4 separate regions of the Homo sapiens genome follow, and all the other regions are linked to region 1. The links come from fine-mapping of genetic effects on gene expression. Tissue or cell type: whole blood. Region 1 holds a variant in brackets; each other region holds the start of a gene. Each region is shown on its reference strand, or each on the opposite one.

Region 1 (8,008 bases):
GCATAAAAAGACAAATATCTCATGTTCTCCCACTTAGATGTGAGAGCTGAAATATCTGATCACATGGTGGTAGAAAGTGGAAAGAGAGAACAGAGATGGGAAGGGTGATTGGGGTAAAGGGGTGAGGATGAAGAGAACTGGGTTAAAGAACACACATACAATTAGATAGAAATAAATTCAATTTGTAAAAAATAATTTAAAAAATTAGAGATGGGATCTCGCTGAGTTGTCTAGGCTGGCCTTAAACTCCTGGGCACAAGCAATCCTCCCACCCTGGCCTCCCAAAGTGTTGGGATTATAGGCTTGAGCCACCGTACTGGGCCTAAATTCATTGTTTGGTAGCAGAGCAGGATGAGTATGGTTAAACAAAAATGTATTGTACGTGGGTGATGGATATCCTAAATACCCTGACTTGATCAGTATACATTATATACATGTAACAAAATTTCACATGTACCCCATACATTTGTACAAATAAGAAAAAAATATTTTAAATGTAATCTACTGTTCCTGTGGATGGAGGTGACTTTTTCCATGAAGCCAACAATCTCAAGAAAAAAATTGTTAAATAATATGTAAAATGAAAGTTAACATCAGCTTTCTACTTCCTTAAGATGTCAAAAATAAGCCAGAATTTTTTAAACAAAGTTTAATAATTCATCTAAGTAAGTTGTCACTTGACAAATGGCAACATACCGTGAGGGAGTATTATAACTCTGGGACTTGGGCAGGCATGCAAGGTGCGATGAAGAAGAGATACCAACTTCACAGAGCTGCTGTTGGCTACTAAATACATCAAGACGTATGAAGCGATAAACCTGGTGCCTGGGCCATAGGAATGATCGACCTTGGTATTAAAATTTGGCATAGGCTAAGTGGAGATGGGTGGTAATGAGGTCATCCTTCATAAGTGTCCAGCGGGGAAGACAAGATTCAGGACAGCCATGGACATTTGGATGTTTATGACACCAGGGAACAAGCCATGATGAGAGCTTTTATACATTTTATCACATGTAAAACGTTTCGTGAATAATTAGGAATAAATATGAATCTTGTTATGTCTGTTTCTATTTTATCAACTTGGATCATTATTAAAGATGTTCTTTTTGCCTGTTTGCCAAATTATTTTGTTTTGAAAACAATTTTATAGCATTGCAATTGTGACAATTTTTTTCAAAATAAGTAACTCATAAAATGAATTTGTTTATTTATTTATTTTTGAGACAAAATATTGCTCTGTTGTCCTGGCTGGAGTGCAGTGGCATGATCTCAGCTCACTGCAACCTCCGCCTCCCGGGTTCAATCCTCAGCCTCCTAAATAGCTGGGATTACAGGCGTGCGCCACCATGCCTGGCTAATTTTCATATTTTTTAGTAGAGATGGGGTTTCACCATGTTGGCCAGGCTGGTCTCGAACTCCTGACCTCAAGTGATCTGCCCGCCTTGGCCTCCCAAAGTGCTGGGATTGCAGGTGTGAGCCACCACACTCAGCTCCATAAAATGAACTTAGATGTACTCAAACTTTCACATCATCTGTAATTACATTAAATAGTGATTGAGAAGAGTTAAAATTTAGTGAATGAATTGAGCTTATGTTTTTTAAAATCTTACTTTAATTTGATATTTTATGTTATACTTACACTAATATTAGCTAATAGTTTACTTAGCTCTGTAATAGCTTTTAGTAGGAAAAGTATTTTGAATGCAAAGGTATGCTGATGTATGTCCCACAGTAAGACACAATTAGACACTGATCGCTCATTATCACCAGTGACCTCTATGATGCCTGATCCAATCCCCAAATCTCAGTGCTCACATTACTTGACTTGGGTATGGGATGTCCATAAGATTCTTTGTCAAATCTGCCTCCTTTTGAGAGCAAAAGGGAGCCTGATAAGTAATAACACCAGGACGAAAGCAGATGTGAGCTGGGACCTTCCTGGGCAAGCCAGTATAAACGACTAACCCTATCCCACAGCAGCATTTGCTGAAGTTGCTCACTCTCTCCTCCTTGATGCACTTTCTTTACTTGGTTCCAAAATGCCACAGTCTCATGATTGTCCTCCCACTCGCAAGCCTCTCATTCTTGGCCTCCTTTGATGATTTCTCCTCTTCTCCCCAACCTTTTAATGTTGAAGTATCCAAGATATGGTCCTTGGTCCCCTTTTCATTTCTCATTACACTCAGGGCTTTAAATATAATCTGTATGTCAATGAGATGGTTTTAAAAAATATGTCCACCAACCCTTGTTGACTGGTTCTAGTGAGTAGATGATGGCAGAAATGATGGGATGTCATTTCCAAGATGAGGTTATAAAACTACTGTGGTTTTTATGTTGGGTACTCTCTCATTCTCTTTCGGCTCACTCATTCTGGGGTAAGCCAGGGGCCATGTGAGGTTCACAGGATGAGGATCTGAGGTTTATTAACAGCCACACAAGTGGGCGTGGAAGTGGATCTTCCAAGACCTGCACCACCTGTGTGAGTGAACTTGGAAGCTGATCCTTCCTCAAACTCGCCTTCAAATGAGGTAATGAGGTCATCCTCATTACCTACTAGACTACCTGTTAGACAGGACTGCAGCCCTGTCTAACACCTTGACTGCAGTTCTAAACCAGAACCACTCAGCTACATGGCTCTCAGAAACCCAACCCACAGAAACTGTGGGTTAATAAATGATCCTTGTTGTAAGCTGCCAAATCTTGGAGCAAACTTGTCCAGCAATAGAAAACTAATATGGGCGACTCCAATATCCAACTGCCTCCCACCATTTTCCTTCAGACGTCTAACAGCATCTCGAGCCCACACGTCCAACACTGAACTGCTGATCTCACAGGTCCAGAACCTGCTTCACTCCACCCTTTCTCATCTCAGTGGACGGCAACTTCATCCTTTATTATATTATAACTCTGTGACTTGGGCAAGCATGCAAGGTGCGATGAAGAAGTGATACCAACTTCACAGAGCTGCTGTTGGCTACTAAATACATCAAGATGTGAATTCCAGGCCAGGGAATTTCAGTCCTCTTTGATTTTTCCCAAAAGGGGAGAAAGCCCCACCTCCAATTTGGCAGGTTGGTCTCACCTTCAAAATGAACTAAGAATCCAGTCCCGTCTTACCGCCTCAGCTGCAGTTTCTCCAGTCTGAGCCACCATCATCCCATGCCTGGATTTTCTGCAGTCATCTTCTAACACTTCCCCTTCTTCCTACCCCTGGCATCTCCCTGAGCCCTACACTATTTTCAGCAAAGCAGCCAGACCGAATCTTTTAACACAGAAGTGAGATCATATTATTACTCTGCTGTCATTTTTTTCAATGGCTTTCCATCTCACTCAGCAAGGAAAACAAGCCAAAGCCCTGCCAAGGCCCATGAAACTCTGTTTGATCTGCCGCCCGCCACCTGCTGACCTCCTCCTCTGTCCTCCTGCTCTTGCTCCCTCCCCTCCATCCCTGCAGGCCCGCCTGCAATTCCCCGATGTGCTTGGCACGCTCCACTCTCTGGCCTTCTGCTCTTGCTGTTTCCTCTGCCATGAATGCTCTTCCTCTGGATATCTGCTTGGCCAACTCCATATTTTTG[C/T]TCAAAACTCCCTTTTGCAATGAGGCCCACATAGGCCACTCCAATATTGCAACTAACCACTCTCTTGCTGTGAATTGCCAATTCCCCTTGCCCAACTCTCCTTTCCCCCCATGGCACGTACCACCTTCTAACAGACTAGATCATTTACTATGTTTCTCATCTATTTTCTACCTCCCCTGGCTGGCACATAAGTTCCACAAGAGCAGGACTCCTTTTCTATTTTATCCCAAGTACCTAGAGTAGTGCCTGACAGTATACCACAACCTATGGAATACAGCAAAAGCAGTACTAACAGGGAAGATTATAGCTACTAAGTGCCTACATCAAAAAGGAGGAAAAACCTCAGATAAGTAATATAACGATACATCTTAAAGAACTAGAAAAGCAAGAGCAAATGAACCCAAAATTAGTAGAAGAAGAGAAATAATAAAGCTGACAGCAGAAATAAATGAAATTGAAATGAAAAAAATACAAAAGATCAATGAAGTCAAAAGATGGTTTTTTTGAAAAGTTAAACAAAACTGACAAACTTTAGCCAGACTAAGAAAAAAAGAGAAGATCCAAATAAATAAAATCAGAAATGAAAAAGGAGACTTTACAACTGATACTGCAGAAATTGAAAGGATCATTAGTGGCCACTATGAGCAACTATACGTTGATAAATTGGAAAATCTAGAAGAAATGGACAAATTCCTAGATACACACAACCTACCAAGATTGAACCAGGAAGAAATCCAAAACCTGAATAGACCAATAACAAGTAATGAGATGGAGGCCATAATCAAAAGTCGGCCAGTAAAGAAAAGGCCAGGACCTGATGGCTTCACTGCTGAATTCTATCAAACATTTAAAGAAGAACTAATACCATTCCCACTCAAACTATTCTGAAAAACAGAGGAGGAGGGACTACTTCCAGACTTATTCTGTGAGGCCAGTGTTACCCTAAATTCTTCAAAAATCAGGTTGTTGGATAGTTCAGCCTTTGTGAAATGAGAAAGGCAGGTTATGTCCACAAGTGAATGAGAGCATGGCATGAAATTCACACTGAATTTACACTTTCAGCCTAAAACAAATAAAGCGATTTATTTAAATTCACAGAAGATGTGGGAGATGTACTTTTGCAACTTTTATTTTAAAAAATAATGTTGAAGTTGTGTCTATTTTATTCCAAAACATGATTTTTGGCAAAGAAATAAGATCTTTTGTGGAGCAAAGTGAATGTTATTAAATATAGGTAAATGCTGGTAAATATATCCAGTAAAGGTCTTAAGCTTGGATGTTCCTTAAATATGTCTGATGATTTAAAATATATTAAATCCATCACAGGGGGCAGCCAGGGCCAGCTCCATGAACAGGTGACCTGTGCAGCCCCTGGGTCCCCAGGCTTGGAGACCCCTGTGGTTGGTTTATCGTTCTGCTCCTGCTGTCTTAAAATTCCTATTACTCTTTGAAAAAAGGGCACTGTCTTACAGATTGTGTAGCCGGTCCTGGGGGTGGTTATTATCAATTGTGAATGGCTATTGCCTCAATGGAAAAGAATATTTCAAAACCACTTGGGCAAGTTATGAAATATGCCTTTGTATGTCATACTGTTTATAGTAAAACACAACTGAAAACACTTCCCTTCGCCTGTGGAGTCACTGGCTGTGCTGTTCTTGTCAATGGATTGCCAAGGCTCTCCTGGACGTTTATTCGCTGAACCTAATTGCACAGATCTGAAAACAACCATGTGGTCATAATTCACAAGGCTTTAAAAATCAGGTATCTAGTCCTATAAAAAACAGTAAAACTTCTTTAAGATAGTTCCTCATTACACATATTGGAATATGGTACCAAGTATATCTTGAAAACTTACAGCTGAAGATTATACTAAAAATAGAAAAATTAAATAAATTTCCCAAACACATGAGTCTCACTCTTTGAATTCAACAAAACCAAAACACCACACAAAGTAAAGAGTCAATCATGATTCCTTCCCTTTGTCCATGAAGGCTGGCAGATTTTTTAAAAATTAATTAATTAATTAATTTTTTTTTTGAGACGGAGTCTCGCTCTGTCACCCAGGTTGGAGTGCTATGGCTGGATCTCAGCTCGCTGAACCTCCACCTCCTGGGTTCAAGCCATTCTCCGGCCTCAGCCTCCCGAGTAGCTGGGATTACAGGCGCCCGCCACACACGCCTGGCTAATTTTTGTATTTTTAGTAGAGATGGGGTTTCACCATGTTGGCCAGGTTGGTCTTGAACTCCTGACCTCAGGTGATCTGCCCGCCTCTACCTCCCAAAGTGCTGGGATTACAGGCGTGAGCCACCGCGCCCAGTCGAGGCTGGTGGATTTTAAACCTTTCTGCTACATTATAAACTCTCTGAGAGCTTGGACTCTGACTCCAGAGTATGGCAAAACGGCTTGAGTGGAGCAGACCCTCTGTGTGCCGGGAGCCATTAGCTAATAAGTGATTGAGATTCATTTCAGGCTGGTGGAGGAGACTGAGATCTCTTCTCTGGTCTTCTCTTTTTGTGAGTGGGTGGGGCCTCAACCCTTCTTGGAAAGCACATCAGAAAGCGACTCTACTTCATAGGAAACACTGCACACACGTGCCAGCCGGTTCTAAACTCTGATCTTGTAGTTATTCTTTCAATCCCCACCCCAATCCATCCTGTGAGGAAGATGCTATTTTTATCTCTACAGACGAGAAGACAGAGACACATAGAGCTTAGTCACAGTTGGTAAATGGCGGAGAGGAGATTCAACCCCCGCCTGGGTTCCAGAGTCTGCGCTTTGATCCAGTTTCCCGGGGCCATGTCCCCCAGCATGGAGAAGAGCTGGCTCAGGAGGAGGGGGCACAGCCTCCCAGGTGGTCGGAGCAGCGCGGGCGGAGGCGCAGAGGCAAGAAGGAGCTGGTCTCTTTGAGGGCGAAGGCGGTTCATAGGGTGTGTGCACATCTAATCCCTCTCCTTCGAGAGTGCCGCCACCCTCATTCTTAGGGAAGGGGCGGGGAAGGGTTCCTGGGATCGTCATCCTACCTAAGCACCCCAGTGAGTGTTCAGTTCCCTGCCGCAGCTAGTGCCCTGTGCCCAGTGGGAAGCCACGTGGCCAGGCCTAGCGAGATCTCCGGGCGCGGTGGCCCGTGTGTGCCTCTAGCCAGGCCGCCGTGGCCAGGGCTTGGTGGTGTGTTTGACGCTAACCTTCCATGTCAACTCTGTGCGTTTCCCCAACACCCCGCACTGACCCTGTCCTCCTGGCTGCTGGTGACCCCTGACTCCCTGCCTCCTGACTGCTGGTGAGCATGCTGAGTCTGTTTAGAGGGGCGACTCGGGGAGTTCCTGAATGCAAAGTGAGGGGTGGTTCAGGCCACACACCTGTGAGTGCCCTGGGTACCAGCCCGCGGCCCAGAGCCTGGCTCAGGAGCTCAGCTGGGGCGCTCGCGGAGACTGTGACAAGTGTGCGTTCTGAGCCGTGGCAGGATTTCCCCAGCTGCTGTTTGTGCCTCCCCGGGGCTTTCTCAGGTCTCTGAAAACAACATATCCCGGGCTGGGATACGGGGGGAGGATGCCAGATGGGTTTTGAATTCTTTGAAATCTCCAAGCACCTAAAAAAATAATCACGGTGGGTAGGTGTGGGAAGCTCTTTAAAATGTGGCACATTTCCCCCAAAGCTTAAAATAGAGCTTTTCAAGGGAAATTAAATGGAAGTATAAAAATATGTAAATGCTCTTCCTTCCTACAAAACAGAAATAATGTTACAGGCATCACCCCGGGGCCCCAGGCCCCTCCGTAGTCAGCACCAGCAGTGCCAAATATGGCCCATGGCTCTGGGTTTCCTCCCTATATTGACTCTGACCAGGGACATCAACACTTCCCCCAGGGGACCCCACTATTTCTCTGATATGTTCTATTTGCCTAATGTCTGTGTTTATCCCTCGTTTTTTTGTTTTTGTTTTTAAACTAGTGTGGGATTTTTAGAAGGTTGTCACATGTTCCTTGGGCCTGTAGGTTTCTTTGTGAAAAATATACCACGTCCTGGGAGTTGTGGCTCCAGTCCAGAGGCTGCTCTAATGCACACATTGAGGAGGTGTTCATTGCAGAGCTTCCCAAAGAGAAAAATGGTGCAGGTCATGTTAACTCAGTTATCGACTTTCTCAATTTCTGATTTCAACTTTATTGCTATAAACACATTATTCACTTTTAGTCAAACCAAAAAGTCAAGTTTGCATAGGGCTTTTTTTTTTTAAATGATGGATTTTCTTTACTTTTCTTGTCCTAGTTTTCTACCCACTACCTGTGTGATGTTGTCCCAGGGATTCAGCCTCTGGGTGCTTTGCTTGTCAAAGAACAGGGAAGAAGGACGGAGCCACCTAAGCCTGTGCAGGCTGGAAGCGCTGGTAACGTGGGCCAGGCTGGGTCCCAAGCTCTGGGGCCCCTTGCAGTGCCCTTGGG
Region 2 (8,008 bases), not on the chromosome of region 1:
GGCCTGAGTCACCCCAATTTTCTATTTTTGAGTCAGGGTCTTGCTCTGTTGCCCTGACTGGATACAGTGGCATGATCACAGCTCACGGTAGCCTCCATCTTCTGGGCTCAAGCAATCCTCCCACCTTAGCCTCCCAAGTAGCTGGGACCACAGGTGCACACCACCATGCCCAGCTAATTTTAAAATTTTTTTGTAGAGACAGGGCCTCGCTCTGTTGCCCAGGCTGGTCTCGAACTCCTGTCCTGAAGCACCATGCTTGGCCAACAAAGTTACTATCTCTGGGAGCACACTATGTTTACTTCTGAAGCATTAACCTAACAGGTCACATTAATAACAACAAAAACAATTCACATGTACTGGCCACAGACCATGTTGTATTTGACCCTCACAACAATTCTACAAACTAGACATTGTGATGATCATCCCTGTTCTACAGATGAGGAGGCAGGAGAGCAGACACATCGGTATGCAGATACACAGCTGGTCGCAGCAGGGCTGAGCCAGGAACCCAGTCAGCCTCATGAGGGAACCTGGGCTCTTTGCCTGCAAAGCCCTGGGCTTTCTGTGCTGACTATAGATTCTGGGCACAGGGAGGGACAGGGACAGTGACTCACCCACAGAGACAGAGGCTGGTGACGAATATGGTTCCTGGGATTCCCATCCCAGGACTCCCTCCCCAGTGCTCCCCAAGGGGATGAACAAACTGCCTGCTTGGTTCTCTACTTTTCAGACAAGTTGGCCATTCTGATGAAGGCTGTCTCAGGGGCAAGCAGGCCTGAGGAGGTGGGTGCTTCCACCAGGACAACCAGGGCTGCAGACACGGAGCCAGAGAGGGAACGCAGAGTGGGGGCTAAGCTGGGCTTTGTTCGCCAATGGGGGAGGGATTGTGGAGTGGGAGAGGGTAGCTCCAGCATCTGCTCATCTGTGGAAAGTCTCTCAGAGCCTTCAGCAGTCCCAGTGCACCAGGTTCCCTGATCACATTGTGTAGGAGTTGGAGCCTCCTGGGTCTGCAGGAGAGGAAGGGGCCACTTAGAGAAGTCAGGGTGGGAGATTCAGAGAGAGAGAGGAAAGAGAGAGAGATAGAGAGACAGAGGGACAGGGGCTGCCCAGGCCTTTGTGAAGGGACATTTATCTAGCCCTCAAGTCTTGATGTGGAAAAGCCTAACTTTTTTTTTTTTTTTGAGACGGAGTCTTACACTCTTGCCCAGGCTGGAGTGCAGTGGCGCCATCTCAGCTCACTGCAAGCTCCGCCTCCTGGGTTCACACCATTCTCCTGCCTCAGCCTCCCAAGTAGCTGGGACTACAGGCGCATGCCACCACACCCAGCTAGAGACGGGGTTTCACTGTGTTAGCCAGGATGGTCTCAATCTCCTGACCTCATGATCAGGCCACCTCGGCCTTCCAAAGTGCTGGGATTACGGGCGTGAGCCACCGCGCCCGGCTAAGCCTCACTTTTCTTTTCTCATTCCGCCTTGCCTAGAATCTTCTGATCACTCTATTAATGGGGTGAGCCATTATGAAAAAGGCGAGCTGGTGAGAGCCTCCTTTCTCCCTCTCTAGGAGGAAGGGGCAGCCATGGGTTCTAAAGGTCTGAAGTCAGCCGCCCTACCTCAGGTAGTGGACACCGACCTGCATGTGCCGAGGGCAGGACTCACTCCTGGAACCTGGGAAGCCTGGACCTTGTGCGATGGCCCTGAGAGGGAAAGCAAGTGCCCCTGAGTCCAGACTTCTGCAGTTGTATCAGAGGGCCTATGCAAGCTGCTTGGGCTCTGGCTGATTTCATGTGAGGGCGTGTCCAGCACTGGCCGAAGTGGAACGTCCTCTTGAGGCAGTTGGAAAGGGGCTCTGAATATGCCAGATCTGACCTAGAGGAACACAGGAGCATGCAGCTCTCACGCCCTAGCCTAAGGACTAACATTGCCATCTGCTTCTCCCCGGTTTGGCTTCTTGGGGATCCTGAAGCCAGTCAGAAGGGTGGAGGAAGCAGGAGAGCCCTGAGAGGTCTGATATCCCTGGATGGCCCTTTTCCCAACAGCCATAAAAGACCTGATGTGCAAGCCCTGCTTGACCAACAGGCCACTGGGGCAACACTTGAACTGTGAAACCAGGTTGCACAGAAGCCCACTTCTTCCTTCTCTCAAGGCCAGGTGTGCAACCGGTGGCCTTCGTCCAGGCTTCCACCTTCCAGGAGCCCTGCTGTCCAAGCCCCCAAGTGTCCCACAGGCCAACTGAGGTCAAGAGGTACCCCAGGCCTCAGGGCCACATGGCCAGTCCACAGAGGAGCTGGGACCGGAATTTGCCTCATGGACGCTGGACCCCTCTATCACTTTGGCCCTTTATCTCTCCTGGCTGTGATCTCTCCCTCTCCCAACACCAGCCACCCATCCCAGCTTGGTGTCTCAGCTAGAGCACCAAACAGGGAGTAATTTGAGGTCGAATCAGGAGAGACTTCCTGGAAGATGTAGGGGCAAAGAGGAGATTGCTGTGCCTGGTTGGAGGTCAGGGAAAGCTTCATGAGGTGAAAGGGCAGGCCAAACAGAAGGATCGGGGCAGAGCTGGGAGAAAGAGCAGGAGGCTCAGATGAGCCTATGTGATGGGGGCATACGTGACAGTCTGGCACTTGCAGTGTGCAGGGCTGGGGTGAGGGCAGTGGGAACCAAAAGGCCACAGGCCCTGATGCCAGCCTAGGGGGTGTGTGGGCTCCTGAAGGTAGAGGGTTGAAATGGCCAAATTGGTGGTTTAAAGGAACCCCTGGACAACGGTGTGGAGGGTGGACTGTGGTCTGGGGAGAGCCTGAAACCTAGAGAAGGTGGAGTCTGGAGGCTGGGGCAGCATTGCATGGGAGAGAAGATGGCGGCAGGAGCCAGGCAGGGGTGGAAGGAGAGGCCAGAGGGGAGTGCTTTCGGGAGGAAGGAGCCAAAGGTGCTTCAGGGCTCATGCAGTGGGCACTCAGCAGAAGAGCAGTCAAGGAGGCCCAGTGGGGACAACCGGGACGTTCATGGGAGTCTCGAACTCAGAGATACAGACTGGGTGGTGTCTGCCTATTATAACTGGTGTCCTGGGAGAGGGCGTCCCCAGGGAAACCCGAGGCCAGGGAAGAGAAGCAGCCCAGGAGGTGACCCCACACGCTCTCAATATTAAGAAGACAGCCCTTAGGGGAGACCAAGAAGGAGCCACCAGGGAGGCAGGAGGGACAGCAGGAGAGTGGCATCAGGGGAGACCGGGGCAGCAAGAAGGAAGGCTCACCAGTGCCTGTGCAGACAAAGACCAGGCTTGAGGGTGGCCATGGACCAAGGGTGGGTTGGCCAGCCTTCAGTGGCCTTCAGCATGAAGAAGAGTGAAAAGATGGGGTCAAGAAGCGTAGACAACCTTTCCTAAGACTTGGCTTGGGAGAAGCCATGGTGAAAGGCCATGTCTGGAGGGGCTTGGGAACATTTTGAGACTGAAAAAAACAGTGAAGAAGGATGCAGAAGGGGATAGATGGAGCAGAGCCTTCGTCTGGCTGACGGCTGGGTCCAGAGAGCATGTGGTATGGCCTTGAACTGAAAGGGCAACTTGTCCCTTGCAAGAGTGAGTCTCTAGGTTGGGGGTGGCTACTGTCTTCATTTACCAGTTCTTTTTTTTTTTTTTCATACTGAGTCTCACTCTGTTACCCAGGCTGGAGTGCAGTGGCATGATCTCAGCTAACTGCAACTTCTGCTTCCCGGGTTCAATGGGTTCAAGTGATTCTCATGCCTCAGCTTGTAGCTGGGACTACAGGTGTGAGCCATCATGCGTGGCTAATTTTCATATTTTTAGTAGAGATGGGGTTTCACCATGTTGGCCAAGCTTGTCTCGAACTCCTTATCTCAGGTGATCCGCCCACCTTGGCCTCCCAAAGTGCTGGGATTATAGGCGTGAGCCACCGTGCCCTGCCTCATTCATCAATTCTTAATCGATGCCTACAGGGTGCCAGGCAATGCCTAGAGCTGGAGATTTAGCAGTCCATCATACTGACTCCTGAGGAGTAGAAGGATGTAGAATAGGCACCTGGCTCTCTTCCTCTCTGGAGGGATTTAACGCTCTTGAGCACCCCTGGCTATGACAATCTCCGGTCAGGTCTGGGAGGTTGTCAGAGATGAAGAAACCACTTCCTCATCTTGCACACAAGGAAGGCCTCACTCACTGCCCAGCAAGTCCTGTGAAGCAATAGCCAGGGGCTAAAGCAAACCCCAGCCCACACCCTGGCAGGCAGCCAGGGATGGGTGGATCAGGAAGGCTCCTGGTTGGGCTTTTGCATCAGGCTCAGGCTGGGCATAAAGGAGGCTCCTGTGGGCTAGAGGGAGGCAGACATGGGGACCATGAAGACCCAAAGGGATGGCCACTCCCTGGGGCGGTGGTCACTGGTGCTCCTGCTGCTGGGCCTGGTGATGCCTCTGGCCATCATTGCCCAGGTCCTCAGCTACAAGGAAGCTGTGCTTCGTGCTATAGATGGCATCAACCAGCGGTCCTCGGATGCTAACCTCTACCGCCTCCTGGACCTGGACCCCAGGCCCACGATGGTGAGCTTTGGGGGACATTCTGCTCTGCTCTGGCTGGGCTTGGCCACGTGTTGTTCCTTCTGCTCCTGCTGCACTGCCTGCCAGGAGGGCATCTCCCCCTTTAAATGTGGTCCCGTGTTTTCCAGGGAACCTTCTAGAGCTCGTGTCTCCTCCCAGCTCGAGAGCTTCCTGCCTTATAATTCCTGCTGTGGCAGAGATACCCTCACCCCGACCCCACGCAGGTTTTGGGACTTCTGCGAGCTCCAGGCACTAGAATGGGGTCATTGGCTCTGGGCAGTGACCTCCTCTGCTTTAAGTCTCTTCTGTACCACGTTACCCCACATAGGGAAGAACTCTATCCAGACTTTAGGTTCCAGTGGGCATGTCTTGTCCCCCAGGAAGCCCCCTGACTTCCCTTGCCCCCACCCCAGAGTGGGAGGGGCTCCTTGTTAGAGCTCATCTGAGGTCTGCTCCTACTCACTGTTCACCTAGGAGGGTAGGAATGGCTCAGTCCTCCTCCCCTCAATGCCCCAGTGCCAAGCCCAGCACCCAGTGCCCGTCGCACATCAGGTACTGTGGAAAGCCTGCCCTCTTGGTGGGGAGGTCATGGACACAAATCAGAAAATACAAGAATGGGCCTCCCCATTTCCTCCTCTGACTAGGATGGGGACCCAGACACGCCAAAGCCTGTGAGCTTCACAGTGAAGGAGACAGTGTGCCCCAGGACGACACAGCAGTCACCAGAGGATTGTGACTTCAAGAAGGACGGGGTGAGGCTGGGGGCTGGGGGTGTTGGTGGGTGCCTCCCAAGGAGCTGAACAGGGGGCACCTGGGGAATATTTCCCACTGGGATGTGGCTGGGAGGTCATGGCAAATGGTTTCAAGTTTGACCTTGAGCTTCTCCTTTCCAGCTGGTGAAGCGGTGTATGGGGACAGTGACCCTCAACCAGGCCAGGGGCTCCTTTGACATCAGTTGTGATAAGGTGAGTGGGCTGTTCTGGGATGCAGGGGCTGATGGGGGCATAGAGTGTGGACCATCCAATGGGTCAATTAACTACTCCCCCAACCCAGGACAGAGAAAGCCCCTCCTACCCAGGGCTCTTCCCCAAACCTGAGTTCCATCTCCAGGGCCGGCTCTGGAATCCCTTAGAGCGGTAGATCTCCAAGTGTAGCCCTTCCTGGGGACTCGTTAGATATGCAAATTCTCAGGCCCTACTCAGACCTACTCAGACAGACTCTGGGTAGGGCCCAGAAATTCGTATTTTGATAAGCTTTCCAGGAGATTCCGGCTTCTGTAAAGTTTGAGAGCCACTGTCTAAGAGTACTCAGCTCTCAGCCCTGTGTTCCCATCTCAGTGTTGCTGGGCTGGGCTGTGTGACCCTGCAGAGCCCCTCACTATCTCCGGGACTCTGTTTTCTCATCTTTTTATTGGGTGTAGGGATTCAATCACATGCTTCAAAGGTCACAGCCAGAGGTTGAACTGGGGCCCCAAAGCTCCTGCGGGGGCCCACGAAGAGGGGCGTCTAGGTGGGGAGGGGTCTTGGATTGACCCTGGGTACATCCCCGACAAGGAACCTGTTTCTTCCTGTACACAACCCCAGGATAACAAGAGATTTGCCCTGCTGGGTGATTTCTTCCGGAAATCTAAAGAGAAGATTGGCAAAGAGTTTAAAAGAATTGTCCAGAGAATCAAGGATTTTTTGCGGAATCTTGTACCCAGGACAGAGTCCTAGTGTGTGCCCTACCCTGGCTCAGGCTTCTGGGCTCTGAGAAATAAACTATGAGAGCAATTTCCTCAGGCTTCAGTCTCACTTGTTTTGCCTCCTCTCTCTCACCACAACTGAGCCCTTAGCTCAGGGAGTCCACGTGTGAGTGTGAGTGTGTGTGAGTGTGACACAGAGGTGGCGAGGGCAGTGTTCCATCCAGGAGGACACAGGGTAAGGCAGTAGGGCCAAGAGATCCAAGATGGCATTCCCATTCTCAGTGGAACCCCCAGTGGGGAATTAAGGAGCTCTACTCTGTGTGTGGTGGTGGGGGAATGCTGTGGAGCTGTTCCTGCTCATGGGGAGGTGACATTCAAGGGAGGGGCCAAGCGTGTTGTTAACACTCAGAGAAGCATGGTCCAGTCCCATGGGTGGCTGGCCAACTGGGTGCGGTCTCCCTGCAGGTACAATTCCCATAAAATTCCAATGCTTCCTAAAAGACTTAACTCAGGAAAGCCCATAACTCCTGGCATTTCCTCTGGCATTGGGACACATCACAGTTTCTTCAGGTGGGTAGCAGATTTAACTTGTGAGCTTGTGTTTAGGGATTGTTAAAAACAAGAATATGGCCAGACGTGGTGGCTCACACCTGTAATGCCAGGACTTTGGGAAGCGAGGCGGGTGGATTGCTTGAGGTCAAGAGTTTGAGACCAGCCTGGGCAACATAACAAACCCTGTCTCTACTAAAAATACAAAAATGAGCTGGGCATGGTGGTGCGTGCCTGTAGTCCCAGCTACTCGGGAGGCTGAGGTGGGAGGATTGCTTGAGCCTGGAAGGCAGAGGTTGCAGTGAGCTGAGATTGCGCCACTGCACTCCAGCCTGGGTGACAGGGTGAAACAAAGGTGACTGGGCTCATAAAAACCAAAAACCTGCCAGGCGTGGTGGCTCATGCCTGTAATCCCAGCACTTTAGGAGGCTGAGGCTGGTTGATCACCTGAGGTTGGGAGTTTGAGACCAGCCTGACCAACATGGAGAAACCCTGTCTCTACTAAAGTGGCAAAAATTAGCCAGGCATGGTGGCACATGCCTGTAATCCCAGCTACTTGGAAAGGCTGAGGCAGGAGAATCGCCTGAACAGGAGGCGGAGGTTGTGGTGAGCCAAGATCGTGCCACTGCACTCCAGCTGGGCAACAAGAGCGAAACTCCATCTCAAAAAAATAAAATAAAATAAAATAAAAACCAAAGACCAAGAATATGTTGGGTGTGGTGGTGCACACCTGTAATCCCAGGTACTTGGGAGGCTCAGGTGGGAGGGTCACTTGAGCCCAGGAGTTCAAGGCTGCAGTGAGCTATGATCATGCTAGTTCACTCCAGCCTGGGCAAAGGAGTGAGACCTCGTCTCTAAAACAAGCAAACAAACAAAAAAAGGAGAATCCTGCTCAGTGGAGTGAGGTGCTGTGGCTAGAAGAGACATGCAGAGTGTGACACACAGGTCGCGACTCTGTTGTGCTGGTGTTTCAGACATGGATCGTGTTCTCCCCACTCACCATTCTGTAGCCACTAGAAGCACCTGCAGCTTTTTGCTATGGGGTTGCTCAACTGGAAGTACTGGGAAGTCTATGCGCCAGGGAGCAGCCTCAACCAATGATAGGTGGGAGCTGGTGGAAAAATATTTGTTCTTCTCACCCGTGGGGGGCACACTCAGAGGTGTGTTTCACATCTCCCAGAGGTCCCCAGGTGGGCTACCCTCAACAAAGACCTGTTCATGACCACATCCTCTTCTG
Region 3 (5,000 bases), not on the chromosome of region 1:
CAGGGACTCCCCCAAGCGCTGAGCAGTGTGAACACTTGTGTACCCTCATTGGCTAGGGCCCAATGAATGGGGCCCAGTGGAAAGGGGGTGGGTGAGGAATGGGGCCCCAGTGTCCTGTTGACCCTGGAGCCCTTGGAGTCGGTCAAGTCTGAATGGGAGGTCTACACCACAGTCCTTACCCAACCTTCCTAGTGCTGAGTCCTGAAGCTTGTGTGGTGGGTCTATGTAGAGCTGACCCCCTCCCTGCAGCCCTGCTAGACTCTGAAGAGAGCCAAGGCCAGTGGGTAGGAGACAGGTCTGGAGCTGGTGCAGAGAGAGGAATGAGCCCTGCATGGGTTTGATCAGAAACTCAGCCTTGTGTAGGGACACCCTGGGGCCCGGTGCTGTCCATGCATGACCTCACAGAAGCGCAGAGCTGCCCTCTCTACAGAGGAGCGCCTGATTTGTGTGGGAGCTAGGCAGAGATCTGCATGCATGCGGAGGAGCCAGGCTTCAAGCCAGCCTGGGGGACCCCCAAGCGGGACTATCTCCCCTTCTGCACCTGGCTCTGGTGTCTTCCCACTGTGGACCCAGTGCCCTGCTCACCCACCACATTCATACCCTGGAGTCCTGGGTCCTCAGAGATCCATGACACTGCCTCACCCCCAACTTCAAATTCTCTGGGGCTCCACCCGCTGGTCTCAGCTACGTGAAGCAGTCACCGTAGACTAGAGGGTACTTTTTAGATTTAGGTCACTCTATCATCCAGGCTGGAGTGCAGTGGCACAATCATAGCTCACTGCAGCCTCGGCTTCCTGGGCCCAAGTGATCCTCCCACCTCAGCCTCCCCGAGGATACGTGGTTTTTTTTTTCTTTTTTCAGACAGGGTCTCACTCTGTCTCCCAGGCTGGAGTGCAGTGGTGCGATCTTGGCTCACTGCAGCCTCCGCCTCCCGGGTTCAAGCCATTCTCCTGCCTCAGCCTCCTGAGTAGTTGGGATCATAGGCATGCATCACCCCACCTGGCTAATTTTTGTATTTTTAGTAGAGACGGGGTTTTGCCATATTGGCCAGGCTAGTCCCTGAGGATACATTTTTTTTTTCCCCGAGATGGAGTCTCCCTCTGTCGCCCAGGCTGGAGTGCAATGGCGCAACCTTGGCTCACTGCAACCTCCGCCTCCCAGGTTCAAGCAATTCTTCTGCCTCAGCTTCCCGAGTAGTTGGGATTACAGGCATGCGCCACCATGCCCAACTAATCTTTGTATTTTTACTAGAGACAGGGTTTCACCATGTTGGTCAGGCTGGTCTTGAACACCTGACCTCAGGTTATCCACCCGCCTCAGTCTCCCAAAGTGCTGGAGTTACAGGCGAGAGCCACTGCGCCCAGCCGAGGATACCTTTTTTTTTTTTTTTTTAAGACAGAATATCGCTCTGTTCCAGGCTAAAGTGCAAAGGCGTGATCTCGGCTCACTGCAACCTCCGCCTCCCAGGTTCAAGCTGTTCTTCTGCCTCAGCCTCCCGAGTAGCTGGGATTACAGGCGCCTGCCACCATGCCCTGCTAATTTTTGTATTTTTAGTAGAGATGGGGTTTCACCGTGTTGGCCAGACTGGTCTCGAACTCCTGACCTCGTGATCCACCCGCCTCAGCCTCCCAAATGCTGGGATTACAGATGTGAGCCACCGCACCCGGCCTGGCAGAGGATACTTTTTAAGGTCAAAGACAGTAGCAGAGGTGGAGTTCCTGGGAACAGGGTCATGAGGGGAAGAGGGGGTTCGGAGGGAGCGAGTAGCCACTGGCTACCTCTAGAAAGGGAAGGCTTTGGTGCAACATCGTTCCCCTGCAGTTTTACTCATCTTTGCTTCCTGCCCTTTCATCATCCAATCGGGCAGGCAGGACAGGGCCTGAGGGGGCAGGGATCCAGTGGGTGCCTCTCTAGACTAACCCCAGCTCAGGACTCCCAGAGCCCCTTCCCTGAGGCCCTGCTGCCCCCAAGCCCAGATTGGGGATCCCAAGCAGCACGTAGGCAGAGCCAGTGAGGTCCCCGTTAGTCCCATTGAAAGCTCTAAAACCAGCGAACCCTCAGTCCAGCCTCAGGTCAGGCATCCAGGACGGCCTCAGCCCTCATGGGTGAGCCATCTCTGCGGACACTGCACAGGGCCTACGATCCATCGCTGCCTCCCGAGGATGCCAGCCAGGCCCCCGTTGAGATAACTGCTTCCCTGCTGGACAAGGCTGGGACCAGCCATCTCGGTGACAGTTCCAGAACCCCTGGCCTGGGCTGCTGGGTTCAATGGAAAAAGGCTGTGACTAGAGTCAGGGGGATGGTCTCAGTGACCTCAAGGATAAGGCCAGATCCTTGCACTGTCAGTGACCCAAAGCAACAGGTGTCCAGAGCAGCAGTGTGGCGCCTTCACGCCCCCACACATCAGCCCAACTCACCCAGGACAGGGACTGTAGCCTCAGCACTCAACCCATGTGCCCTGTGTGGGGTCTCTTCCCACTGCACTCACAGGAGAGGAAGGGTCCCTCAGGGGTCCACTGGGGTCCCCTCCTGCAAATGGGGCAAGGAGAGGGGCAAGGGGCTGTCTCAAGGCCCCTGGAGCACATGCAGGTCCTGGACTGGGGCTCCTGGGAGGGCCATGATTCTGGGCTCCATGAGTTCAGAGCAGACGCCTTGTTTTTCCTTGTCCACTGTCAGCCACCCCACCCTTCCCTGACCCTTAAAAGAACCAGGAAACAGCACATGATCTGTTGGAAGGAGGCATTCATTCTTTCCTTTCTGTGGGTGTGGGGAGGGGACCACAGGGCACATACCCCACCCTGGGATCCAGCTGAGCAGGGGGGTCAGAGATGACAGCTCTTCCGGCTCACAGGCCACCGGCCCACATACAGGGCAATCAGAAGAAAGAAACAGCACAAGGAAGGCACAGAGGGAGTCGTTGTCCCTGCCAGAGGTGCAGCACTCCGGGAATGTCCCTCACTCTCCCCGTCCCTCTGTCTTGCCCAATCCTGACCAGGTGCAGAAATCTTGCCAAGTGTTTCCGCAGGAGTTGCTGGCAATTGCCTCACATTCCTGGCCTTGGCAAAGAATGAATCAACCCACCCTAGATCCCATAAATAGGGCCACCCAGGTGAGCCTCTCACTCGCCACCTCCTCTTCCACCCCTGCCAGGCCCAGCAGCCACCACAGCGCCTGCTTCCTCGGCCCTGAAATCATGCCCCTAGGTCTCCTGTGGCTGGGCCTAGCCCTGTTGGGGGCTCTGCATGCCCAGGCCCAGGACTCCACCTCAGACCTGATCCCAGCCCCACCTCTGAGCAAGGTCCCTCTGCAGCAGAACTTCCAGGACAACCAAGTAAGGGGCCAAGAGGGGCACCTGCAGGCAGGGCCTGGGGAAGAGTGGGAGCAGAGGGGAGGAGAGGTGAAGAGACTCAGGAAGAGCGTTGGGCAGGACTCTAGGAGTCCAGGGTCCAGGTTTCAGCTCACTCTGTGCCACCAGGGTCCCCTGGTGGAAACCATGCCCCTTCCCCCCATCCCCACCCCCTCTCAGCCTGAACAGACTCCCCCAGGTCCACATCCCCTCTCCCATAACCCCCATTGTCCAAAGAAGGTGGGAGCACTTTTAGTCCCCCTGCACAGATGAGGAAACTGAGGCTCAGGAAGGCCCACCAGCCACATGCCTCCTCCAGTGAGGAGGTCACCCTCCTCCCTGCCAGACTCAGAACCGCCTCTTCCCCCAGGACTCCCTTCTGGACTGATGGCCTCCTGCTCCTGCCCCTTCACCAGTGCAGGCCCAGCCTGGGCCCTGCTGCCCAGCTAGAGGGGCTCATGGTTCCAAGCTGGGCGGCCCAGAGGTGCCACAGGGACAGAGCTGGAGGGGTGGCTCCTAGGGCCATTCCTGGGTTGTGCCTCTTATCAGTCCCTTGCAGTTCCAGGGGAAGTGGTATGTGGTAGGCCTGGCAGGGAATGCAATTCTCAGAGAAGACAAAGACCCGCAAAAGATGTATGCCACCATCTATGAGCTGAAAGAAGACAAGAGCTACAATGTCACCTCCGTCCTGTTTAGGTGAGGGCCGACATCTCCTGGGGGTGTGAGAGTCAGACTGACGTCACAGGCAAGGGATGGCCAAAGCTGAGGGATCCTGTCGTTCACCTCGCTGTTCTGCCCGGAATTCATCTGTGTTCATCCTTCCTCTGTTCCTTAGAGCAACGTTTATAGCACATTTCCATGCAGACACACAGACAGTGGTGGGGATGGACATGCACAGTCGTTAGAAAACAAGACGGAGAGAGGAGGGGTGCCTGGGAGCGGGAGGAGGGGACACTGGATCCAGCCTGGAACCCCACCCAGTGCCTTCATGGAAGGCTTCCAGGGAGGTGGCCTTAAAAGAGCCAACCTGCTTCAAAAGGAAATGTGGGGTGTTCCCGGCAGGGGCTGGAGTCAGAGAGAGCCCCCCCTTCAGGAAGGAGCAAGCCATCGCAGGGTCACCCTGAGCAGAGCTGCTGAGCAGCCTGGAGGGGCAGGTGGCCACGCTAGCACCTAGCACGGTCCTCAGGCCCCGCCCCAGCGGATCTGCTGCGGAGTGGCTTAGAGCAGGGCTCTTGGGCCGCAGGGTGGGGAGACTTGGTGGGGTGCAGCCTAGGGGGTCGGGAGACCAGCGAAAGTGAAGCGGGGCCGTCACAGGTGTGAGAGAACAGGCGCAGGGTGAAGAGGCAGGGAGCCAGGGATCAGCCGCCCCCAGTGGGTTTCTGACTCTGGCAGCTGAGTGGATTGGGATTGGGGCATTTGTGGAGCAAGGAGCAGAATACAGACAGGTTGGGGAGCTCAGCCCTGGGGTGCCAGGGGATGGGAAGTGGGAGGACTCAAGGATGGGGTCAGGTTTGACCCGAGAGCTAGGGGAACGGCTGGCATGGAGCAGACTGGAAGTACCGAGGTGGATCCCCGGGAGAGGGTATAGGAAGGGAAGCAGCAAGCTGAGTGCAGGGGAGAAATGCAGGGTTTCTGTGTGTTGGGTGGCGGGGGG
Region 4 (8,008 bases), not on the chromosome of region 1:
CTTTCAGATAACATGATCTTCTATGTAGAAAATACTGAAGAATCTACAAAGTACTATTAGAATTAATAAACAAGTACAGCCAGGCCACAGGATACAAGATCAATATACAAAAATTGATCATATTTTTGCATACAGCACAGAACAATCTAAAAATGAAATTAAGAACATAATGCTAGATAGTATAACATCAAAAAGGATTTAGTACATGACGGGTAAATGATAAGAACAGACATTTTACCAAAGAAGATATATGAATGGACAATAAGCACATGAAAAGTGCTCAATATCATTAGTCAAAAATGCAAATTGAAAATGCAACGAAATATCATTTCACAGCCACTGAACAGGTTATAATAGCTAAAACAGACAATGACACATATCGATGAGGATGTGGAGAAGTGGAAACCCTCATACATTGCTGAGAATGTAAAATGACCAGCCACTTTGTAAAACAGGTTGGCAGCTTCTCAAAATGTGAAGCACAGAGTTCCAATAGGACCCAACAATTGCACTTCTAGGCATATAGCCAGAAGAAATATTATAAGAACCTATCATACATAAATGCTTGTGCATGAATATTCATAGCAGTGTTATTTAGAATAGTAGAAAACTGGAAACAACCTAAATGTCCAATAACTGGTGAATGTACATCCATTCAATGGAATATTACTCAGCAGTGAAAAGAACTACTGGCATGCCCCACAACATGAACGAGCCTCAGTTATGCTCAGTGAAGGAAGCCAGACACAAGAGACCACATGCTGTATGATTCCATTTGAATGAAATGTCCAGAAAAGGCAAATTTATGGAGACAAGAAAATAGATTAGTGGTTGTCTGATGCTGGGGTAGAAATGAGGATTAACTATAAACAGGCATGAGGGACCTTTACTGGGGGGGATAAAAGTGTTCTAAAACAGATTTATGGTGATAGTTGCACACTCGGTAAGGTTACTGAAACTCATTGAATTGTACGCAAATAGGTGATTTTTTATGATATGGAAAATGTACCTCAGTAAAGCTGTTACCAAAAACTAAAACAAAAAACAAACAAACAAAAAAACAAAATAAACACACAGTTGTAAAAGCCCTCTGCCCTTTGGATGTGCTATGGGGTAGAATGTTCAGCCTCTGCTGTCTCCTGTTTCTGAGCCATCCCCTTATGGCGAGAGCCACCCATGGCCCTTGGGTGGGCAAGAGGCCTGTAGCTCCCTGGCTGAGTCTGCAGAGGTTTGGGGACACCTAGCTGCCATACTCCCCCTTCATCCACCCTCATCCCGGGGAAATCCCAGGGAATATAATCTTGCCTTGGAAGCCTTTATAGAACTATCCCACACTGAGAATTAACCCAATCAGATGCAGCCATTTGTGACCCAGTGAGCATTAACTGGATGCCTGCTGTACAAACAGCACTGTGTGTCACGCAAGGAATGTGTAAGCGGACAGGACCAGATTTCACTTCTCACTGGAGAGGCAAAAATCCAAAAAGAGGAAGCTAAGAATGGTGGATGTGTTAAAAGAGAACAAATACCAAACAAATACCAGCTAATGGAGACATACGTGTCTCCATTAGTTGCCACAGCTCCTCTGTATTGTGAATTCTGCCAACCTCTCCATTCTCCAGGGGAGGGAGCTATGGCTTTAACTAGTTATGTGGCTTGTGGAAGTTCCCATAGCTAATAAGTAAGTGTTGGATCTAGGACTCCAACCTAAGCAGTCAGGCACTAAACTCCCCTACTCTTACCACTGGGCTAGCCTGCCTATTTAGGTTGGCAAAGTTAGAGACAGGTTGGAGATGGGGCTAGAAAAGGGTCTGGGTCAGATCCTGGAAAGTCTCCAATGCTGATCCAGGGAGGTCTTATTCAGGATGCAGTGAAGCTGTGACTCACGGGAGACTCTCCCTAGGGCAGGGGCAGAGTGAACTGAGACCTGGGAACAGGCAGAGAAGCTGTGGCCAACGAAGGCACCAGGGAAGGGCTAGTCTGAGTGGAGAGAGGGGACAGCACTGAGAACAGAGAAGGGGGCAGGGAGCTGGTATCAGAAATCAGCTTGGTAATGGGTGGGTTCTGGGGGTGAAGGGAGAGAGTAAAATGGAAGACCATGCCTCAAGCCGGAGGTGGGGGCTGAGCAATGACGGGAACCTGTGGGCAGAGTTCATTTCTTCCCCTAAGAGGAGCTGAACCAGAGTGACTAAAGGACCGCTGAGCTCCCTTCCAGGATTCCCAGTCCCCAGCCCCCCAAACACCAGGTGAAGTCTCCACGCTCTTACCTCCCAGCTCTGGAGCTGTGTGACCCACAAGCTCTTACCTCCCAGCTCTGGAGCTATGTGACCCCCTGAAGCAGGTCTAGGTCTGGCCCCTCCAAAATCTTCAACCCCACACTTGTATTCAGTGTCAGGCACTCAGATGCTGCCCACTGGACCTGGCTGGACACTGGCCAAAACACACATTCTGGGCAGACATGCAGTGCGCTGGCCTCCAAGGCAGGGGCCAGGACAGGAGTTACTCTCCCCACCTACCCACACAGCTCATGATAGGGCCCAAGCAGACTGCTCAGACTGATGGGAAACCTCATGAGTGCCTCCCAGCCCATGGCTCCAGGGCTAAGCAGACAGACTCCTCCACCCAATGCTCACACGGCTTAGATCCAGCTGGCCCCACTCACCCAACTTCTGTCAGCCTGGACACCCACGGGGAGCAGGGCAGGAATTCCACAGGGCAACTGCCACCCTTTCCTCAGGAAGGACAAGGGTTGCAATGGCACTTTGGGGTACAAGCCACCATCCCAATTGACTGCAGGATTCAAACTTCAGACCTCAGTAGGCGCCAAAACAACTAAAGATCCAAGTGAATATAAAACCCAGTGGTGCAACTCTGAGCCAGAATCCTGGACCACAGCCCATGACCACTTCCAGGAAGGCAAGGCTTCCTTCCTCTCCTGCCCCTCCCAGGTGGCCCTAACCCTGTGCAACAGGCCACTCGCCAGGGAGCTTGAGGGGAAGAGAACAGTCGGGTCCTGGCCAGTCCCAATCTGTCTTAGAGAAGAGAAGGATGACCAACACCCATGGGAAGGAATTTGGAGCAGGAGACCAGAAGGGCAGGGACAAGGATGGGTTTGGGCTCCCACTGCTGCTCTCTATCCACCGCCACCTCTTCCATCCAGGAAGCTCCCAGCCTTAGGTAGATGCCGTAAGACAAGTGGAGGCTGCACTGGGCTGGGGAGGTGTGACACCTGGGCTTTCACTGTGCCCCTCCCACTGCCTAGGTCCTGATGCCCATCACAGCCCTTTCTGCTGCGGCCTGGGACCTTCCCCTCCCGGTGCTGCAGGGAGCTCCGCACTCACGCATTTAGGTCACTAATGTGCAGCGCTGGGGAGTGCCCTCTGAGCACCCGAGAAATTACTTTGGTTATGGAACTGACAATTGTTTCCTTCCTTCTACTCCTTCCTTCTGTTTGGCTGACATTTCCCTCTCAAACCCTCTGACACAGGGTTCCATCAGGAGCACCGCACCCCTCCACAACCCTCTGCCACGGAAGGTGTGCGAATGCCCCATCTCCTCCTCACAACCCTGTGGACCCATGGTTAGGCCGTTTCTTTAAGTGAAGAAACTAAGTCTCATAAAGGCTCGGTCTTGCTGGGGTCTCACAGTCCTCGCAGGAGCTAGGATCTGGACTAGGGTCCTTGAGCTAGTCGCTCACCCTCTCTGAGCCTCACTTTCCTCCCAGGTAAAACGCATGTCACAATACAATGGGGACCAAATCCTTAGGCGGGACACAAAGGGACAGGGGCCTGGGAGGCCTTTTGAGAAGCTCTGAGCAGAGCTAGGCGTGCCCCGATCCGGCTTGAGGAGCCCAGCTCCTGTTCCTCCCCATGTGGGAAAGAGACTGGCCCCGCGTCCGGGCCGCCTCCCGGCTGTAGGCGCTGGGACCGCGGGGCGCAGAGACCCCGCGCCCAGCCAACCGGACACAGGGACCAAAGCGCCTAGCAGACAGGGCGCAGGAGACGCCCATCAGGCGGCTCGCGCCCCCAGGCACCTGCACTCACCGAGGGCCCCGAGGAACAGCAGGACGAGGAAGACAAGTTTCATGTCTGCGGTCTGGAGGCGACTTGGCAAACGAAGGCTCTGCCACTTGCGCCTGCCCTGCGCCCCTTTATTCAGGGCTTTGCCCCGCCCTGTTGCCCAATAGACACCCCTTCCCTCCCCACTCCCCGCGGCCAGGTCTACTTGTTCCTTGAGGATCCAGGCTCCGAAAAGCCCTGAGGCAGGACAGGACTCCACACCGCGCTGCGAGAGGAAAGCCAGCCTGCACCTCACCTGTCCTGGTTCTGCCTGGCTGCTGCGATGTTCTTTCTCTCCCACTAGTCTGCAAGCCCCTAGGAGTCGCAGCCCCCTGAGCCCTGTCCCAGCTCTGGTCTCAGTGCCTTCTAGAGGGCAGGACACAGAGCAGAGGGTCTTTACTTGAAGATCGCCTTGACCTGTGAGACTGCTATCTTCTTCAGCAGATGACCTTGAAGGTGCCTAGGAGCCAGTTAGGGCAGGTGGATTTGCTTTCACCTTGGCTCAGCAGTGAGCTGAGAGTTGAAAAGATGACCCGACCACCCCCAGCAGCAGCCTAGGGACAGCTGACAGAGAAAAGAGAGGCTGCCCAGAGTCTCAGGCAAGCTGCCCATGGGGTATCTCCCTGCCCTGCTGAGACCCACAATACAGCTCCCAGAAAACAGACAGGGACCTCAGAGGGGAATGGCCACCACCCAAGGCTGGTTCCATGTTCTTATTTGCCAATGAGAAAGATGCCCTATGGCTAAGATGCCCTACCACTTTTTTTTTTTTTTGTCTTTTTTTTCTCCATCTCCTCCTTCTTCTTTTTTGGTGTTGATAGTATTCAGTAGGAAATGGTAACCTCATTTTAACAATCGCCATAAATGTCAGATTTTAAAATTCAAAAGCTAGAATACTGCTTCTAAGAATACATCTCGTAAATACATTCCCATGACACACAGCACCCCAGGTACAAATGTTTCCAGGCACCACTGCATGCCATTAATCAGTTGGAAGCAAACTAAACATCCATCTCTAGGGGAGTGTCACATACAGCATGGTGCCTGTGGGACACATTGGGGGCCTCAGAAAGAATATCCTGTGTGTATGGATGTGAACTTAGCCCAAGAGTAACTAGGCAGGGCACAGTGGCTCATGCCTGTAATCCCAGCACTTTGGGAGGCCAAGATGGGAGGATCGCTTGAGCCCAGGAGTTCAAGACTAGCCTGGGCAACATAGGGAAACCCCCATCTCTACAAAAAATACAAAAATTAGCCCAGCATGGTGGTGTATGCCTATGGTCCCAGCTACTTGGGAGGCTAAAGTGGGAGGACCATTTGAGCCTGGGAGATGAAGGTGGCAGTGAGCCATGATCATGTCACTGCACTGCAGCCTGGGCAATAGAGTAAGACTCTGTAACCCCCACCAAAAAAAAAAAGGGTAACTAAGTGAAGAAAAAAGGTACTAACAGTGAGGGAAATAATAGGTCACCTGAACACCTTTCTTGGCAGGTGAGTCTGACCAATATGTGACTCTGAAATCTGCTTATTCTGAAAAGCTGGTCTTGACTCTGCTTAGACTACTTGGTACTAAAAAGCATTTCCTGGAGCAGATAGGCAATGCCCCAGGGAGCCAGCTCTGCCAAGAGTGAGCATGCAGTGGGCACCTAGCCATGGAGAAGCAGGCTCAGCCCAAGGTGGAGAGGCCATTAAGGAGGCTGGGGAGCCCCTCCATTTCTGGGCATGATCCTGCCAAGGCACAGGGTGGAGGCTAATCAGGGATCATGCTTGCCTGCCATGAGACTGGGGTCTGAGATTTGGTGCTAGAATCACCAGCTGGGTTTTGGGGTGACAGATCCAAGGTCTCTCATTGTTTGGAAACATGATATTGCACCATTTAAAGTTGCCATCATCAATAATTGCAATAAGTTCTTTCAAAAATACTGAAGAAATACAAAATTGACTAATTCCCAGGAGTGCTGAAGCATCTTTGTACCTAAATTGGCAACAAGACTTTGCCTTTTCATCATTATAAAAGAATTAAGAAACATCATAACCCGTGTCTCTTTTTCTGAGTCCAAATTTTAAAAAAGGATGACTGGGAGGTCAGAGGGCCCTGGGCCCTCTTAAGTATGTTACAGTGTTGGCAAGAACACAGAGAACCTGGGGCCACTACCAAGAGGCTCAGCTTAAGGAGTGCCCTGAAGGCAGCATGGGTAGGCAACAGGGCAGACTGTTTTCCTGCTGTGCCTGTTGGAACAGCCCAGCCCCAGGGCAGGGATGTGAGCATCTGGACACAGGCAGAGCAGCCCCTCAAGGCCATTTGCAGAGGAGGCTGATGTAGGGGATGAGTCTGCCCCAAAAAACAATGAAGTTTCACTGATCTATTAACAGCATTCATTCATTCATTCATTCATTCATTCATGCCAGAACTGGTAGATGCCATGAGAGACAGAGAAGAGGGGTCTGTCCTTGCCCTCAGGAGCTCACAGCACTATGGGGGAGGGACAGTCACAGGAATGCACTTCTATCACAGAGGCTCCCTAAGAAGAGGCCAAGCAGCATAAAGCAAGTGAGTGTGAGGGCCCAGAGGAGGAATGACCAGCACCCATCATGAGGGCTCCAGAAGAACTCCAGGAAGATTTAGCCTGGGTACCTGAAGGAAGGGTGGGATTTCTACAGGTAGAGCATTCTGTAAAGTAAACAACCAAACAAGTAAAGGCTTGGGAGCATGAACCCAGTGACCAATTACCTGAGCACTAGGGACAACAAAAGTTCCCTCTGGCTTTCTGGCCAGGAATTCTTTTTTTCTTTTCTTTTCTTTTCTTTTTTTTTTTTTTTTTTTTACCGACAGGGTCTCCCTCTGTCACCTAGGCTGGTATGCAGTGGTGGTGCAATCACAGCTCACTGCAGCCTTGACCTCCTGGGCCCAAGCGATCCTCCCACCTTGGCCTCCCAAAGTGCTGGAATTACAGGCATAAACCATTGCACCCAGCCATGGCTTGGAACTCTTGTTGGAAGAAGGATTAACAAAATCCTCCTCCTCTATCCTGAGCTCCACATCATGTGTTCATCTGCCTCTGGAAAGGTACTCTTGCAGGTCCTGAAGGCGCCTAAATTTAATGCATCGAAAATGCAACTCACCCAGTCCCTCCAACCCTGAACCTTTTCTCATATTTCCTACCGCTTTCCACCAAACCCACCAAAGAGCCGCAGAGGCACCCTCAAATCCTTTGGCCAGTTAGCTCTGTGCATGTTATAGGCACTTGATGATCAATATCGGTTGAAGGAATGAATAAATGAGGAAGAGGAACAGGCTAAGAAAGGGACAAAGGATCCTGTTTGTAATGTGTTGGGTCTGAAGGATAGTGAGGGTCAGGGCTGCCTAAGCCAGGCCATGCCAAAGCCTGTGTACATGGACTCATTAACTTACCCATTCATTCAACACTGGTCTATGGGACATCTCCAACGTGCCAGGAGTTGGGTCAGATCTCAAAGAGCCTGCAGGGAAGCAGAATGCAGGTTTCCAAATGCTGAGACAGTAACATGAGTTTAAGGAGCACAAAGAAGGTAGCTGCTGTGGAAACTGCCATGCAGTGGCAAGAGCTAGTGTTCAACAGGCAGATGTGTGAGGCTGACTCCCTTCCCCCTAACCCTGCTCTGCCCCCACCCTCAAAACTCCTCCAGGGAGCCTTTACAGAATTGCAGGCCCAAGCCCCATTAGCAGGCAACAGTCTCTGGCCAACCTAAGTCCTCCCTGCAAGCCAGTAAACCTCACACCCTGCCCTCTATGAGCCTCTAGCTTCAAACCCCAAGAAGAGTGTTGGGAAGGAAGTGTGAGATCTGAGTAGAACTGGCTTCAGGTGGGATAAGGCAGAAAAGGCCTTCCTGAGACATCAACTCACGCTTGGACAATAGCTTGGCAGATGGGAGACCTTGGGCCCTGTATCTTTTCCCTGCCAGTGGTGAGA

Evidence for each region. PIP is the estimated chance that this variant, and not a neighbour inherited with it, causes the effect.
Region 2: it holds the start of CAMP, and the variant in region 1 is the best candidate, but not a certain one, in a credible set for the expression of CAMP in whole blood (TOPMed, PIP 0.69).
Region 3: LCN2 starts here. The variant in region 1 is fine-mapped to the expression of LCN2 in whole blood (TOPMed, PIP 0.97).
Region 4: it holds the start of LTF, and the variant in region 1 is fine-mapped to the expression of LTF in whole blood (TOPMed, PIP 0.97).

What each region holds. Positions count from the first base shown.
Region 1 is chr6:159,087,653-159,095,660 of GRCh38, forward strand. The region is part of intron 3 of LOC112267968; the gene reads right to left. Among named protein-coding and RNA genes, the nearest start is that of TAGAP, 47 kb to the left of the region's middle. RefSeq lists an enhancer at 7,051-7,180. The variant C/T (reference allele first, on the strand shown) is at 3,576.
Region 2 is chr3:48,219,172-48,227,179 of GRCh38, forward strand. CAMP (cathelicidin antimicrobial peptide) reads left to right here and starts at 4,324. Exons shown (of 4, transcript NM_004345.5): 1 at 4,324-4,541; 2 at 5,183-5,290; 3 at 5,432-5,503; 4 at 6,122-6,314. The coding sequence starts at 4,341. The coding sequence ends at 6,253. RefSeq lists enhancers at 3,669-3,788, 3,809-3,938, 3,949-3,998 and a silencer at 4,008-4,302.
Region 3 is chr9:128,146,333-128,151,332 of GRCh38, forward strand. It overlaps LCN2 (lipocalin 2), which reads left to right and starts at 3,121. Exons shown (of 7, transcript NM_005564.5): 1 at 3,121-3,331; 2 at 3,906-4,042. The coding sequence starts at 3,194. RefSeq lists an enhancer at 1-341 and a silencer at 4,471-4,520.
Region 4 is chr3:46,460,782-46,468,789 of GRCh38, forward strand. LTF (lactotransferrin) reads right to left here and starts at 4,124. Exons shown (of 17, transcript NM_002343.6): 1 at 4,044-4,124. The coding sequence starts at 4,086.